2 separate regions of the Homo sapiens genome follow, and region 2 is reported to be linked to region 1. Evidence: microRNA targets listed by miRTarBase, many of them from high-throughput screens and not tested one by one. Region 1 holds a microRNA gene; the other region holds the end of a gene's coding sequence.

What was found. Region 1 holds the annotated microRNA hsa-miR-4705 (UCAAUCACUUGGUAAUUGCUGU, at 3,660-3,681, shown strand). A microRNA usually pairs through its seed, bases 2 to 8, with sites in the 3' UTR of a target mRNA and lowers its output. Matches are read on the target gene's strand: a 7mer-m8 pairs with bases 2 to 8, a 7mer-A1 pairs with bases 2 to 7 and ends in A, and an 8mer does both.
Region 2: the mRNA of NLGN1 is a reported target of hsa-miR-4705. Seed matches in the 3' UTR shown: 7mer-A1 at 3,458-3,464 and 7mer-A1 at 7,012-7,018.

Annotation. Positions count from the first base shown.
Region 1 is chr13:102,041,733-102,049,654 of GRCh38, reverse strand. MIR4705 (microRNA 4705) reads left to right here and starts at 3,651; the gene lies at 3,651-3,721. It also overlaps a transcript of FGF14 not described here.
Region 2 is chr3:174,280,648-174,288,569 of GRCh38, forward strand. It overlaps NLGN1 (neuroligin 1), which reads left to right. Exons shown (of 7, transcript NM_001365925.2): 7 at 1-7,922. The coding sequence ends at 656. Among named protein-coding and RNA genes, the nearest start is that of NLGN1-AS1, 360 kb to the left of the region's middle.

The DNA.
Region 1 (7,922 bases):
ACTAATTATACCTGTAATAATCTTATTTCCAAATAAAGTCACATTCTAAGGTACTGGTGGTTAGAACCTTAATATATGAATGAGGAGAGTAAGATGCAAACAGTAATGCTCAGGCAAGCAAACAATGTTTATTTAATGATGATTTGGACTTTTGGAAATCCAATTCTGTCTCCTATTTTTTTGTTGTTTTGAAGTGAACATATTATTAGAAGACTCAAAATCAGTAATCCCATTCAAAACAAAAAGAAGGGTTTCACAGTGACAGTGAGGCCCAATGACACTGGGTGCTCAGTCCTGGAATAATGATTTTAAAGTCAATAAAAATTTGATTTTCAGATTTATTTTTGTCTAGAAAGAGCACATTTATTGACTGGTTAAAACTCAGAATGTAGAGGTAAAAGAAAGGACATTTAATTGTGCAAATCAAAGTTTGTGTCTTTTATTTAAAAATTATATATAGCCTATAAGGATTTTCTGGCATGTTCAAAATTAATATCCTTTCATATTTATATTGATTGTATTTTTTTTCCTAAAATTTTCCTTTAAAATGGTTGATTGAAGTTTCTTTGACTATTGATTTTTTACATTGTTTTCTCAGGAGACATATGTCTTAGTTTTTTATTTCGTATCATAATTTTTGCCCTTTCTTGGAATCTAACTTTTTTCTCCCATTATCAGCTGAAATACAGCAATATCAAAAGACTGCTGTTTTAGGAAGGGAAGTTATTCCGATTTAAATAATTAATGTGACAGTATCTGAGGAATTAGAGTTGGAATCCAGAGTAATCAATAAGAGAATCCTCTTTTTCTCCATAGCTGGGGAAGCAAAGGCTAAATAACATAAGGAATGTGCCTGAGTGAAGACAGCCTCGGTTCTGGAATTGGGCACAAACTCTGGCTACTATAAGTTTCCAAAGGTCAATGTCATTCTTCCCCTGGGAATGTCTTCCCAGTGAGTTATTTCAAATAGCATGGGCCTGCTCCTTCTCACACAGGTGCAGCATCATCATCCCCAGCAGGTAACACTTACGTGGCACTAAGTATTGCCCAGATAGGATGAGGAGTGGAAACTTAATTCTGGATTTGGAACTGGAAGACTTTCAGATCTGTCATACACGACAGCGGGCAAGTCACTGAACTTCTAAGCCTTAAGTGACTCCGACTCTAAGATGGAAATTATAATTTACCTCCAAATGTTGTGGGCATAAAACATGGAATCCAAAGTGAAAGATGTAACAAAAAATGATAGTTACCGTATACTAACCACAAGGTATCAGGCACTCTGCAAACTCTTCATGTGTCCATTATCCCATACAATTTTCACAGCAACCATGCAGTACAGGTATTTATTATTCCCTCACACCCCCTTTTCTAGAAGACAAAACATAAGATTGGTACTTTTCCTAAGATCGCAACAGCTTTTGAACAACAGAGCAAGGTTATGACCTAAGAGCCATGCTGTTTCCTCATCTACCACATCATTAAACAGCTTGAACTGGGCCATTCAGCCAAAAGAAACCCAGTCATAGAAACTTGGAGCAAGTCGTTTCATGGAATAGAAACTCTTTTAATCTCTTCAGAGTAAACTTCAGTTAAATATGAAAAGTTTATATCAACTGCTGCTTTTTTTTTTTTTAAACAACTAAGATAATAAACCGGGCTTAGAAAGTCTCCTTCTAAAGGAACTGGCACCATACCAACTAAAAGGGCCCATACTCTTTTCTCATAAAAATGTATTTTTTGCTTCTAAATAGAAGGCATGAAAAGTGGGTTTAAATTTCCTTTTTAATGTTGAGAAAAACTATTTGTAAAGATGATTTTTTTTATTATACTTTAAGTTTTAGGGTACATGTGCACAACATGCAGGTTTGTTACATATGTATACATGTGCCATGTTGGTGTGCTGCACCCATTAACTCGTCATTTAGCATTAGGTATATCTCCTAATGCTATCCCTCCCCCTTCCCACCACCCCACAACAGGCCCCGGTGTGTGATGTTCCCCTTCCTGTGTCCATGTGTTCTCGTTGTTCAATTCCCACCTATGAGTGAGAATATGCGGTGTTTGGTTTTTTGTCCTTGCGATAGTTTGCTGAGAATGATGGTTTCCAGCTTCATCCATGTCCCTGCAAAGGACGTGAACTCATCATTTTTTATGGCTGCATAGTATTCCATGGTGTATATGTGCCACATTTTCTTAATCCTTTAAAACATTTCAATCCTTATTTTGTCCTGAACAGGCCAGTAATTTTTTTTTAAAGGTATAGCTAAATCTCCCTCAAGAGCAGAAATGATTACAATTAGAATCTTTTAGGTTTGCATTATTATTCTTATTATTCTTAAACCAAAATTTCGAAGCTGCCAAGATGTATGTATGTGTATGTGTGGGATGGTAGGAAGGGGATAAAATGGTTAATTTTTTATATAAAGCAAAAATGACCTTTTTGGATGACATTTCCTGCTGTCCATATGTATTATACTTCTAAATTTTCTCATTTAAATATTTTGTTCTCTTATCTAGGCTACAACCCAGAAAAAATATACTATTTATTCAGTTTTATGTGTGAATTTTCCATTTGGAGTATACTTCGCCAATTCCTGTCCAGAGTTGTATGATTTTGATTATTTGAATACTATAAAATAACACACAACAATTTTGTGCTAAAATGTAACACTAACCTGACACCTCCCCAATAGATCCATCTGCTGAGATGGTTTGGTGACCAATTAATATTTTTTTCTTAAGTAATTATGACAGCAGTACCCATGAAGAGACATTCATTATTGGAATAGCAACATTTATTCTAAACTAAATTATCAATGTAGAAATTATGCTTCAAATATAGCAAATGCATTTATTTACATTTTTAAAATCATCCCTTGCTAATGGTAGAAAAGATGTTAGGGCTTTTCATCTATCCACCTGTACTTTTCAACAATTTTCTGAAGATGTGATAAAGTAATTTCAATAAACCTTTTTAATATATTCCACCTTTTATTGGATATCACCGTCAGCACTCACAATTTGTTAATTGTGTCATTTGAGGTAGGAACAATGAAAGCAAAATGGTAGTTTAACAGAACGGTGCATTAAATTGTCAAATAAAGATTTATGACTAAGACCCCAGATTTAACCCTGGGTAGCTATACTCACTTTTCCTATTTGACGCAACATCATACTCCTGTTTTTTGTGGTTCCCCATTTAATTCATGTTTCTTTAAAATAGTAATAACATGTGAGAGCTTTTCTCTTAGTGTTCTTTATATTAATAAACTCAAAAATATTTTCTGACAATAAGCATTAATTTTCCCACATCATTATGCACAAGCTTTAATATTAATAATGTTTATTTGTAGGTGCAGTTAACTACAATCTATCTGTGTTTATAATTCTATGATATTGATATATGGTTTTCATGTTAATAATTTTAGTGGAATTATCTTTCCAGAAATCAGCCCCGTAGGAATTGACTAGAGAGAGGCTTAGGAAAAAGGAGTTAGGGGGTTGGGTAACTGGAGAGTCAGTGTTTCCTGCCCAGGCAAGAACAAAAGGCATCTCTTTTTTCTTGTGCAAGAAGTGGGAGTTAGAATAGATCTTGACATTGACAAAAGTCCTTAAGAACATGCCAAGGATTTACCACTTCTCTAACCCTCACAAGATCAATCACTTGGTAATTGCTGTGATAACAACTCAGCAATTACCAAGTGATTGGTTTTGTGAGAATGCTTGTTCAGCTCTTCTAGCCATTCCTCACAGGCTTGTCAGACCCCGGGCCCTTCTGCATGAATGACATGCTTAATGCTGTAGTGCCTCCAAGTAGCTACCAGACAGACTATCCTATAGATGGCAGAGCAAAGATTTTCAGGCTGAATTCAGTTGCTTTAATCACACAGTTGATTTGCTGAACTTAAAACTTACAACCAGAATGAATGGGAAAGAGATGTAGATAATTACACATCTCTAAACTGTATCAGGGATCAAATATGATTATGAACCAGATACATACAATTTGTGCTTTTTCCTTTTCAAAGATCCCTATGTACAATGTAACATGTTCTGCATTTCCATTATTCTGCCACTGCATGGTCTTTTAATTTTTTTTCTAGCTTGTTAAGGAATTTTCATGATAGAGATCACAGTTGCTCCACAGTAATCAAAATCAGACAATGAGTTGTCCTGATGGTTTCTTTATATGTTACCTGAGTTCTTCTACCACAGCCTTCTGTGCCATTTTATATTTTCTCCTCACCATTTATGAAATTCTAAAAACCTAATATTCGTGAAAGAGATCAAGCATTCCTGTTTCAGGCATCCTGTGAAAATTGAAACTTCTGTGTGTATTTACATATATTTATATCTATGGTTACAGCTTTTTTTTTTTCCATCTGCATAGCAGTTTCCTTTCCAGTCATCCCTAAAGGATGTATATTTAGCTGATGTGACATACTTAGTCTACCTCTGTGTGCACATAGATGCTTGATGGGAAGTGTCTGAGACAACTCTTGAAACTTCACCCTATAATGTATATTTTAACTACACAAATTGAATATCAAAATTATTAGATGAGTAAAATTCAATTGACACTCTCAGACTCTGAGGTCAGCTTAACAGACATGGATGGGGAACGTCAGTGAGGTTATAGACACATGTTTTTGCCACTATTGCTGTTCTGTCCTTGTATAAGAATGAGGATGAGTAGACACCTCTATTTGCTGGCCATGGTAGCAAGTCAGAGTACACCAACATCGGCAAAATTTCTCCAATAGATCTAGAGTATTTTGGTAGACATATGTCAATATTTCCATTAAACTGTAAATGATCTACATGCATCTGGCCAAATAAAATGCTTGAAATTTTGATGTTGGAAAGTTGTGGGGGACTGACGATGTATATCTTTCTTCTTCTTGAGTGGTGGAGGATGGTGGAAGGTAATTTGAGATTGTTTTCCTCCTGAAAGTGCCTTTTACAGCAATTAAATGGCTTTGAGAGATCATGGGTTTGGAAATAATTAAAATGATGATCACTTTAAGGCAGTTTTTAAACTGTGTTTAACTTAATGCTTCAGAGTATCTCCAAGCCACCTGAAACTTATAGAAAATTTTGTGCATTTTTTTTTTACGAAAGAGGAGACTTCGCTTTTATTCCTTTCTCAACAGATCGATGATCTGGCAAATAGTTGCCCTAGGATGCCCATTAGGTTGAACATGAAGGACAGGTTTTTATGGACTACTACTAATTTATTTATATATGTTCCTCTTCCAAAAGTTCATTTAATAAAAGCAGTTTTTTTTTTTATCATTGCAATCATCTTTTGCAGTTTAGGGGAGAAACAATAGGAAAGGAATCAGTTATCTTTTAGGGGTAATTAGCAGTTAGGACAGCATCTACCAGGAGGAGGAGAGTACCTGTGTAAGTCAGGATTCATTTGGAAAGTACCTCAACTGCAGCTCCCTATGGAGTCAAGGGGGATGTCAGTGGCCAGTCAGCTGGCCAACCGGGTCTTGACCCCAGGTGAGATGAAGTGGAGGAAAGCACATGTTCCAGCTGTATCTTCTGTGCAAATAGACTTCAAGACAAGTTAGCATGGCTGGCCAGAGCCACCTTACTTTGGGCATTGGCATTCACATTCCAGTGTCATTTCTATGCAGTTCCACTCATAGCTTCCCAGAGTTAAAGCTTAACAGAACTTGAGCACTGTAATTTCAGAGATCCTTCTGATTGCTGCACTTGTACAAGGATGGTGCAGCAGCCATGACAACAATCCAGTTGCTAGGTAGGATGTGGTAGCCGCACTGATAGTCCACATGCATGCCAGTTAAGCTGGCCTTTGGGCTGGAGACCATCTAAAGTGAGACCCAGAGAGGTTAAATGGCTTGCCCAAGATCAACAAGATAAATGCTGGAACCGTGGGAAGGAAAGGCCAGATTTCCTAGTTCCTAATCTAGTTTCATGTTTCTTATATGGCTCACTGTTTCGGTCAGATATTTGCTTTTACCCTGTTTTGCACTTTACTGGCCTTATTTGAGAAGGTTTTCCATTTTCATGTCCCATACTGCATTTTACCTCTTTTTAATTTCTCCCTCAAACCTGCCTTTAGAGTTATACCCCAATTTGATCCCTCTAGGGGAAAAATGTTCCACTTTCATCCACTGTCAAGTACTTGCCCTTCTAAAAAAGAAGCAAATTGTTTGGAGGTTTTGCCTCAGTGTTTAGCAAAGTATCTGGCCTAGAGTAAGCGTTGGATGAAACCTGTTGTTTGACAGTTGTTAAACAATTGTGATTTAATGCAGCCTGGTTCCAATTGGAAGAATAAGTCATCTGAGTGGTTAGTGGCTTTAAGTACGATTGAGGAAAAGTCCTGAGAAGAACAAAGACCACTAAAATATAAAGGTGACCTTGGGTGCTTCATTTTGCTTATCCGGATTGTGTTATTTAATAAAGGAGTCAATATCAACACTATTTTCCTGCAAGGTTGTTTTAAGGATTATATGCGTATGAATGGACATGACAGATTAAAAGAGCAATGTAAGACATTAATTATTTCTTTTTATGATCAGCACTAATGCTATTTGCTAGAATGCAAAGATAAATATGGTCCTGACCCTGTCATTCATAAGCTCATATTTTTCTCTTTATCCATTCGTCCGTCTGGTAAATTCGTATTTTTTAGTCCAGTGATTCTCTTGGCACAAATGTCTGAGATATTTTTGTTGTCACTGCTGGAGGTTTGCTACTGACACTTGCTGGTACTGCATATTCTACAATACGCAAAGCCCTCTGCAACAAAGAATTGTGCAGCCCCAACTATCCATAGTTTTGAGAGTGAAACAGCCTGCCTTTTGAATAAAATCATCTGAATAAAATTGACTCACTCACTAAAAACATGAGTTCTCTGTTTTTTATATTCTCCTAAAATATACACAGACATGTGTTGGCACATCACTAATATTAGAGAGATTATGTTCCATTTAACTGCAAATCTGCAAGGGCAGGTGTTTGTCTTTTTTTTACCTTTGTGCTTACATGGCATTCACACATATTGGACACAGCATTCACTTGTTTATTCATTCATTCTAGACATTTTTGGCTTTGAGCATCTACTATATGCCAGGCCCTGTTCTAGGTTCTGAGGATATATTACTGAATAAAAAAGACATGTTGGAAATTACATTCCAACAGGTGGAAGTACTTACTGTGACAGGTGCCTCTTAGAGTTAATATTAAATACAAGAATAGACAAGGTCACTGAGGAACAATGATTACGACCTTCTCAATTCACTGAGCTAGACTGCAGTGTCTCAGAAGTGAGAAACAGCTGAGTAGATTGTACTAATTTATTGATAATGATATGAATTTGTGTACATTTCACAGGTTAGTGTCATGCATGAAAGTGCCTGTTTTACTAAGTGATACCATATTTGTATAAGCATTCCTTGTCAGCTGCCATGCAGATGCAGACTGCCTCATTACCATGTTTTATGCCACATAGGAGTTCCTATCATGTGCTAGGTAGTAGGTGAACCAGAACTCAGATGTGAAAATTGATTCAGTCTTTTACAAAAGAATTTAGGCATAAGGAAATGACTAAGGAAGGAAAGTTTGCTCTTCTTTGAGTATGTTCGTTTGTTACCAAACATTTTGTTGTGTTGGATAGTGAGATGAGTCCTTTAAGTGAACTTTGGCTGGCTGGTCACAGTGTTAAGATGTGCATTCTCAAGCAATGGAACTTAGGAGACTTGTGAAGGAGAAATGTGAAGGAAATTAGAGACTTCACTGTGGATGCTGTTGGAATGTGAGGAAATCATGTCCAAAGGTAGGATCTGAAAGAACTTTCACCTAGATAGGTAGTTCTCTCTCCCCACTCCCAAGGAGACACTTCTAGAAGAAAATAAGGAAGCACTTCTGGCTTTTATGAGGTTAAG
Region 2 (7,922 bases), not on the chromosome of region 1:
GGTTGGAGTTGGTACCTCATCTGCATAATCTCAATGACATTTCTCAGTATACCTCTACAACAACTAAAGTGCCATCAACTGACATCACTTTCAGACCTACGAGAAAAAATTCTGTACCTGTCACGTCAGCCTTTCCCACTGCCAAGCAGGATGATCCCAAACAACAACCAAGTCCATTTTCAGTGGATCAAAGGGACTACTCAACAGAGCTGAGTGTCACTATTGCAGTTGGAGCATCACTGCTGTTTCTGAACATCTTGGCCTTTGCAGCCCTGTACTACAAAAAGGATAAGAGGAGACATGATGTTCACAGGAGATGCAGCCCTCAGCGCACTACTACCAATGATCTAACCCATGCACAAGAAGAGGAAATCATGTCCCTCCAAATGAAGCACACTGATTTGGATCATGAATGTGAGTCCATTCATCCACATGAGGTGGTTCTTCGGACCGCCTGTCCCCCAGATTACACACTAGCTATGAGGAGGTCACCTGATGATGTTCCCTTAATGACACCCAACACCATTACAATGATTCCCAACACTATACCAGGGATTCAGCCCTTACACACATTCAATACATTTACTGGAGGACAGAACAATACTCTGCCCCATCCCCATCCCCACCCCCATTCACATTCAACAACCAGGGTATAGCCAGATAAGAGAAACAAACTATTTTTTTTGATGGATTGCAGTAAACGATCACTGAAGATTCCTTGGCTTTCAACCTACAAGACTTACTATTTAAATAAGGAGGAATATTATGTGAATATACATATCAAGAACTTTGGGGGTTTTGAAAAAAATGAATTGTATATATACAAATCAACTTTAAAAACAAATTTCAATTGCTTGAAGCAATTGTTCTGAATGATACTTTTTCATTCACATTCAAGAATTAATTTTTTGAAGATTTAAGTTACATAATGGAATTAGGCATGTGGAACACCAAACAGGAAAGAACTATGTCTGAAATATAAAAAATAAAAATAAAAAAACAACTATGAATATGCACAAGGGACACACCAGTGGAATGTCAGATAATTTTCACCAGTTTTTATTTGGAGCCGTTTTATTGTGTAGACCATATTTACATATTTGGATAAGTACACAAAGCGTCAATGCTGTTAATGGCCTTAGCAAAGGCTCATGCTGAAATTTGCCAGTAAAACAAAGAAGTTTAAAGACTGGCAGGTACACCATTATCACATAAGTGCTGTCAGTATAAAGTTGTGGGGATAAAGGAAACTGGATATTTTTAGCACGATGTGCATGATAATTTATATGCTTGGTGGCTGTGCTGCTGATTAAGCCGTAATTAAAATTCTTCTCATCCCATTGGAGTTTTTAATAGAAGCTTCCTCCATCAATTGGCAGAACCTAAAGAAGATTTTAAGGGGCAAAAGTAATTACAATAAAATAATTCACAGTAGTTTCAATATAGAAGGAATTAGCTATTAAAGGTATTTGAAGAAACTATAGGTATAGTGGTGAATACTCGCTGATATGAATCCCAGAAAAAAATTTCCTGTTTTTAATGTTCTTTTCAATCCCATCTAGATAATTTATAGAAATATAACCCTAATTGGACATGTGGTACAGGATCTATAAGTTGCTGTGTTTTTTTGTTACTCTGTATTTTGTTCCTTTTGGTAAGGTGAAGTGTGTCCAAAGAGTTACTTGCAACAGTCTTTCATGATATGAGGATGCCCCCGTATTACCACTCTGATTATAGTTCTGAGTTCTTTGATTTACTCATGCTGCATGACAAAATGTTTACTAATAACAATTCATTATAAAGTTATATCCCTCTTTACATCACTTATCTTTCTCACTGAGGTTCATTCACTGGAATTTACTCACGCAATCTCAGTAGAGTACAACGTAGATACAGAACCTAGGAGAGTCAACATCTGGAGGATTTTAGTCTTTCTTACACATATGTGTGATTTTAAACGAATATTCTCAGACCACAGGAAACTCTTCATCCCCCTGTTGTTTACCAGTAACAGTATATCACAGACCTTTCCAAATGTTTGTATATGTAATCAGATGTACATTTATATTGAAAAACAAATGAGATGGACTTAAAGAGCACATCCTGATAAATACTTTCTCTCTCACCTGTACTATATTTCTATTAGACTAAAGTTATGTGATTTTTTTTTTACATTTTTTCAGATGACTAGCAATTTTGATAGTTTATAAGATAATGCAAAGAACTTTCTCTGACAAACTAACTGCAGTAACAGAAACCTTTCTTTTCAGTTACTCTTTTTCAAGAATGAAAGATTATTATACAAAAAATTGTATACTACTTGATGGAACCAACTTTGTACATCTTGGCCATGTCACTGGTCATTGTGTGAAATAAAGATAATCTGGATAATGACTATTAGTCCAATGCTAAGAAACATGATCTTTGCTCATTAAAGAGCTAAAATGTTTATTGCTGTTTTGTCTTTCTTTTTTCTAAAAAAAGAAAAAAAAGAAAAAAAGGAAAAGAAGAACAAAGAAACATGACTGTCTCAAAGAGTAATTTTTCTAGATTAGACCAGTCAGGTTTTTGAAGACATATAGGTAACTTCCACAGAAAACACAAACATGTATTTAAAGGCAAGTCTCATCTAAGATGAAACTCATAAAAATTATTTAATGTTTGTTATGAATTTAAAAGCTCCAGAAATCCATGAAAAAAAGAAAGATTAGCTTTGTGTTGTTAAATATCTCTTAGGTACAGATGTTGTAGAAATAAAGTGCCAATTGTTTTCAGTTAGTTAGAAAAACAAGTTCCAATTCTAGTCATCAAGGAAAAGGTCTATTGAAAAGAAATTTGCAATATTTCATGGAATACAAATAACTAGGTTCATAAAATGGGGGTGATTAAACTACCATAAAGTAATGAATAGAAAGTTGCCATGCTAAGAGAATGTAAAAGTGCTGAGCAAGATATTAAACTGACACTAAAAGATAAAAATCTATTTCAAGGAATTTATGTGATTATAATCCCCCCTCCCAATTATTATCTATCAAAGAAATGTAGGTATTCCTCCATAATTAAAAAAAAGTCTCTGTTAGAAGCAAAAGTCTTCAAAATCCAGAGTGATCTACATACAGCTTTTGACTGAGGTGGTTATGCTTTTCAACTGTGAACTGCCAGTGTACACAAATACAAATAATTGTTTAGCATCTGAAGTATTGTTCAATTGGAACACTGTATTTTACTGTATTAATTAAACAAAACACAAGAACAGAATAGAAATGACAACAAAATAAGATATGAATGAATACTTTCATATGCATTGCTTCATTTGGCAAAACCAAACATTCTATTAAATAGTATGTTTTAACGATGGCCATATTTATATCATCTACCTACCAATCTATTGCTCTGCATTTATCAATCTGCCTATATATAGCATAACTGTCACCCTCTTTATATTAATTTAGGAAAATGATTGAGGAAAACAAAGCATAGCCCTATTAATTATTTTCTCTAAATTAGGGTAGAATAACTTTATGGAAGATAAAGCAGCCTAGGTTTAATTGTTGTTCACCAGTCACGTGATAAAGTCATTGTGAATGAGTGTTAGTTGCTAGTTTTATAATTGCAGTCTCTAGTTTCTGAATGAAAAAGGATGCCCCACATTATACAGAACATTAAGAACTGTTTTTAAAGCTGAAACATAATCTTTATATGCAAGAAAAATAAATACTGTTACTCAATTTTAGCAAATATGTTTAAAATGTATTTATTTAGATAATTTTCTTTGAAAAACAATGTAAGTAACAAAATTAAAATAATATTTTTGGCATTATTTGTTAATTCAGATTTTCCTGCCTCCGATTAAAAATTAGGCAAAGCTGCTTATAATTTATACAAAGATTACACTAAAATGAACTTTATTTCATTGTTTTGCTGTTATATAAAATTTTTACCAAATGTTTACCAAGAGATTAATGTTTTAGAGTATGAGGATAGAAAAATAAAAGTGACAGATTTCATAGTTTTAAATCTCTACTGAACATGTTGACTATGAACAAAATCTAATTGGCTACCACAGATATATAACAAAGTTTATTACTAACTTTATGCAAATTGGAAAATAATTTGCTAAAGCATTAAAAATGTCAGATTTGTAGACGTCTTGCTGGCAACTCAAAGCAGAAAATCTGAGTATATATTATTTTATTCCTCATTTCAAATATAAAAGTTGACCAAAGTGATGCTTTATTTCCGACTTCCTGATCTGTATGTGAAAACAGCAACATTTTTTTAAAAATTATCAAGTATATATAATATTAAAAAGAGGAAAACAGATGGCACTAATTTTCTTACAGGAGTGAAGTGCTGAAACTAAATTGTTACATCTGTAACAACAGTTATTTCACCTCTTGCCACACTCATCCTGACATACGTATTAATATCAAAAAATGATACAAAGAATATGAGAAATGTGTTCCAGCATTAAAGACACTACTACATAGAAATTACTGGGATTCTTTTCTTTGGCGAGTTTCACTGAAATAGTTTCACAGGATGAAATGATGAATTGAATTCTTAAGAAGCTGTCAAATATGGCAGTCTTTTGATGTTAGTAATTTTGTTTTCTTCTGTGTTATTGGTTCAAAGTACTGGCCTTTTCCTTCATTTCCAGTAATTAGTTGTTATAGACTATCACTTTTTAATGTGAGTGGAAATTAGATGATTTGGTTATACTTGTGAAAACATGCTTCCAAATAAATTCAATTAATGGGCACTTCCCTGCTGAGATTTTGTTATCATTCATTTGATTATCTTGTCAAGCTTTACTGTTACGACAAATGTTTTAGCTTTCTGGTCAATAGACTAAGGGAATTTCTCCAGTAGCCTTATACCTCTCCTGCACTTGATCTGATAGCAACATACACTTCAAATTTCCATCAGAAGTCTCTAAAGAAATTTCCTACTGCTATGAAACATTTGGTGGCCAACTTGATTCTTTTTCATAAGCATTCTGATTTGATTTTATTCTGGCACGTTGCTGTATTTGGATGCAGGCCAGAAATCAATTCCATTTGATAAGGGTTGTGGAGAATACAGACTGGAATAACCGTGTGCAGGGCTTAAGTGCCTTTTCCTCCTGAGATTTTATTTATAAAACTTAGCTTTTTTAAATTTTCAGATTCAGATAATTCAATTTAAAGAGTACAATAGGATGACTATATTATAAATTACCAATAAAGAAAGTTTATTTGGACATTTTTACATTTAATTTGATTTTTAAAATAATATCAGATGCATCTAAATGGCTTCCGGGAAAGACTGAGGTAAATTTTTGAAAGTGACAATTATATAGGCATCTGACTTGATGGTACTTAAGAATAAAAATTTAAATCTCTAGCAAACTTTAAAAATTGTCCAAATAGTAAGTTTAATTTGAAAGAAGTCTGAAGCTATTAGAGAAAATCATGTACTAGATAGGTATATATTTTTTTCTAGTCAGCTATTACGTACACCACATAATATATATACCCTATATACTATATGGTTTATATAACATTTATAATGGCCCTTTCAGACCCATATACTTACAAATGACATTGTATAACTACCTACATATGTATTAATGTGACAGAATTTAGTCCTTTATGGAAAGTCAAACCAAATTGCTAGCAGTTTTGAGTTGAAATGAATGATAACAATTAAAGCTTTTAAGAAATTGGTAAAGGTACCGTAACAAAAACTCAGCAGATAAATTTAAAAGAGAGGGACCATTTTTGAATGCCATTTTCAGAGTTGACATCTAAACTAGATGGTGTGTTTAAAAGGATTTTAGTGGTTTTGATTCATCCTTTCTCTGCATTCATATCATTTAGCAAATTAATGGGACATATGTCATGGTTTTTGTAAAAAAGACCATTGGGTTGTCATGATTCAGTTTGTGTTTGGACATCTATGGCTTTCATTAAAAACGTGTTTATTATCATGAATAAATATTACCATGTTTTCCAAGTTGTGTTGACTATTTTTAAACTCAGAAATAATTTCTTCTCTATTTGTCTCACACAAAAAGGTTACTAAGATAAGTGTTTTCTTACAAAGTCTTTGTATTGCTTCCACACTGCTGACAGTTCTGACTTGATAGAAACAATGACATTTTATGATCTTTTCACCTCTTGGTGAATGCAGGGCAAGAATTTAGAGAATAGATTTGGGGAGCTGGACACAACTTTTCAGAAAAGAGAGAGGAAAGTGGGAGAAGGAAAAAGAAAAGAATGGAAAAAGGAGGAAGTGAGAGAGAACAAAAAGGAAGAAAAACTTCTCAATTTTAAATTAATGACTTTTTGCATCCAAATAGTGCTTTAAATAGAGATGTGTGACAGTTTTTTAAAAAGAAGGGCAAAGGAATTTAAATAAATCCCTTTAAATCATAAATCTATTATTCTTAGAGAACAAAATTAATAATATCTAGGAAGATATCTTAAATTTAATTCTTGATCCAAGTCTTGATCAAATCATGTCACTGGAAACAATTAAAAATAAAATCTATACTGAAATATTTATGGTTTTGTACTATCTAATCAATAATGATATTGGTAGGAAGACTATGGGAAGTAAGATAATCTCTCATCTGTATATAGCCCAAGATAAGAATACAGCAAAGAGGACATCATATAATTTCCTCATACATAGCCTAAAGATAAATGTTTCCAATGGCTGAATAAAAGAATTAGCATTGCTTTACAAGTCTCTGTGGTCACATATGGCCATGGGCACCTAATAAATTAAACAGTTAAAAAACATATTCTAACAATTTCACTTTCCATAAAAGGGTTTTGATGTTTTGTAAAATTTGGTGTTGTTTGATATGATTACTTTTTCACTAGTTTTGTATTTCCTTATGGTTTGTAGGATGTTATTTCTGAGTTCAAAAAAAGTTTCAAATATACTCGTGAATGTTCATGTGAAAGCAGTATTTTCTAATGGAATGCTATAATTTGAAGTACTGTCTCAATTTTGGAGAGTTGATTGACTATCTAGTTAAAACTTTTCTATCTCCCCTGAAAATACTCAACTTTGCTCTCAGAGCTGCCTTCCTCTGCACTACAGGGGATCTTCTTACCAGTCACTGTGGCTCCTGTTTCCATGGCCTATCCTATTACTAGTTATGACCTCTTCTCCAAGGGGGTAAAGTTGTGCTGAAAGTCTTAAAAGGTGATCTAACCAACTGGTGCCTTGGGAATTGGCTTCCTCTGCTCCTCAGGCAGGTTAGAAGCTAGTGAACATCAATCAAGCAATGAAAGAAATTAGTCATTTCTTCTTTCAACAAATGTTGTCTACTATGGGTTAGGCAACATAATGGGTGTTAAACACGTGGCCAATTCTATGACTTACTAACATACAACTATTGTCAAGTTTGGAATAGGTCCAAACACATGGACTGATTTAGACCACTTTCTATGCTATACTCTGTAGCAAATCACTGTACAATTCCTTGTTTTGTCTATTTCACATGTCTCAAAATAGTAAATACAAATCAATATTTCTTGAGTTCAAAAAAAATTAGTGAATTCTATTGAGCCAGTTCACCAGTTAAGGTATGTAGCAGACATCTTTCCAAATAATAAATACAGCCTATCTGAAGTCATGCTATAGTATGCCAATTCAAATTTCATGGAATATGAAATTTCCAGCATAAATCTCATCTGATCCAGCCCCATAAGTGGTTCCTTAATCCTTTGCCACAACCTCAACATGTAATTGTGAAGCCTATCATTGAACACTGCCATGGGTCTGAATTCTAAAACAGCTGGCTGCATTTTGGACTATTTGGGATGTCTTCTTTATATTGATTTCTTGCTCTTTTTTTTTCTTTTTATAGCCACACCGTCTTCATCGCCTGAATTGATCTCAAATATTTAAAGATGGCTTTCATA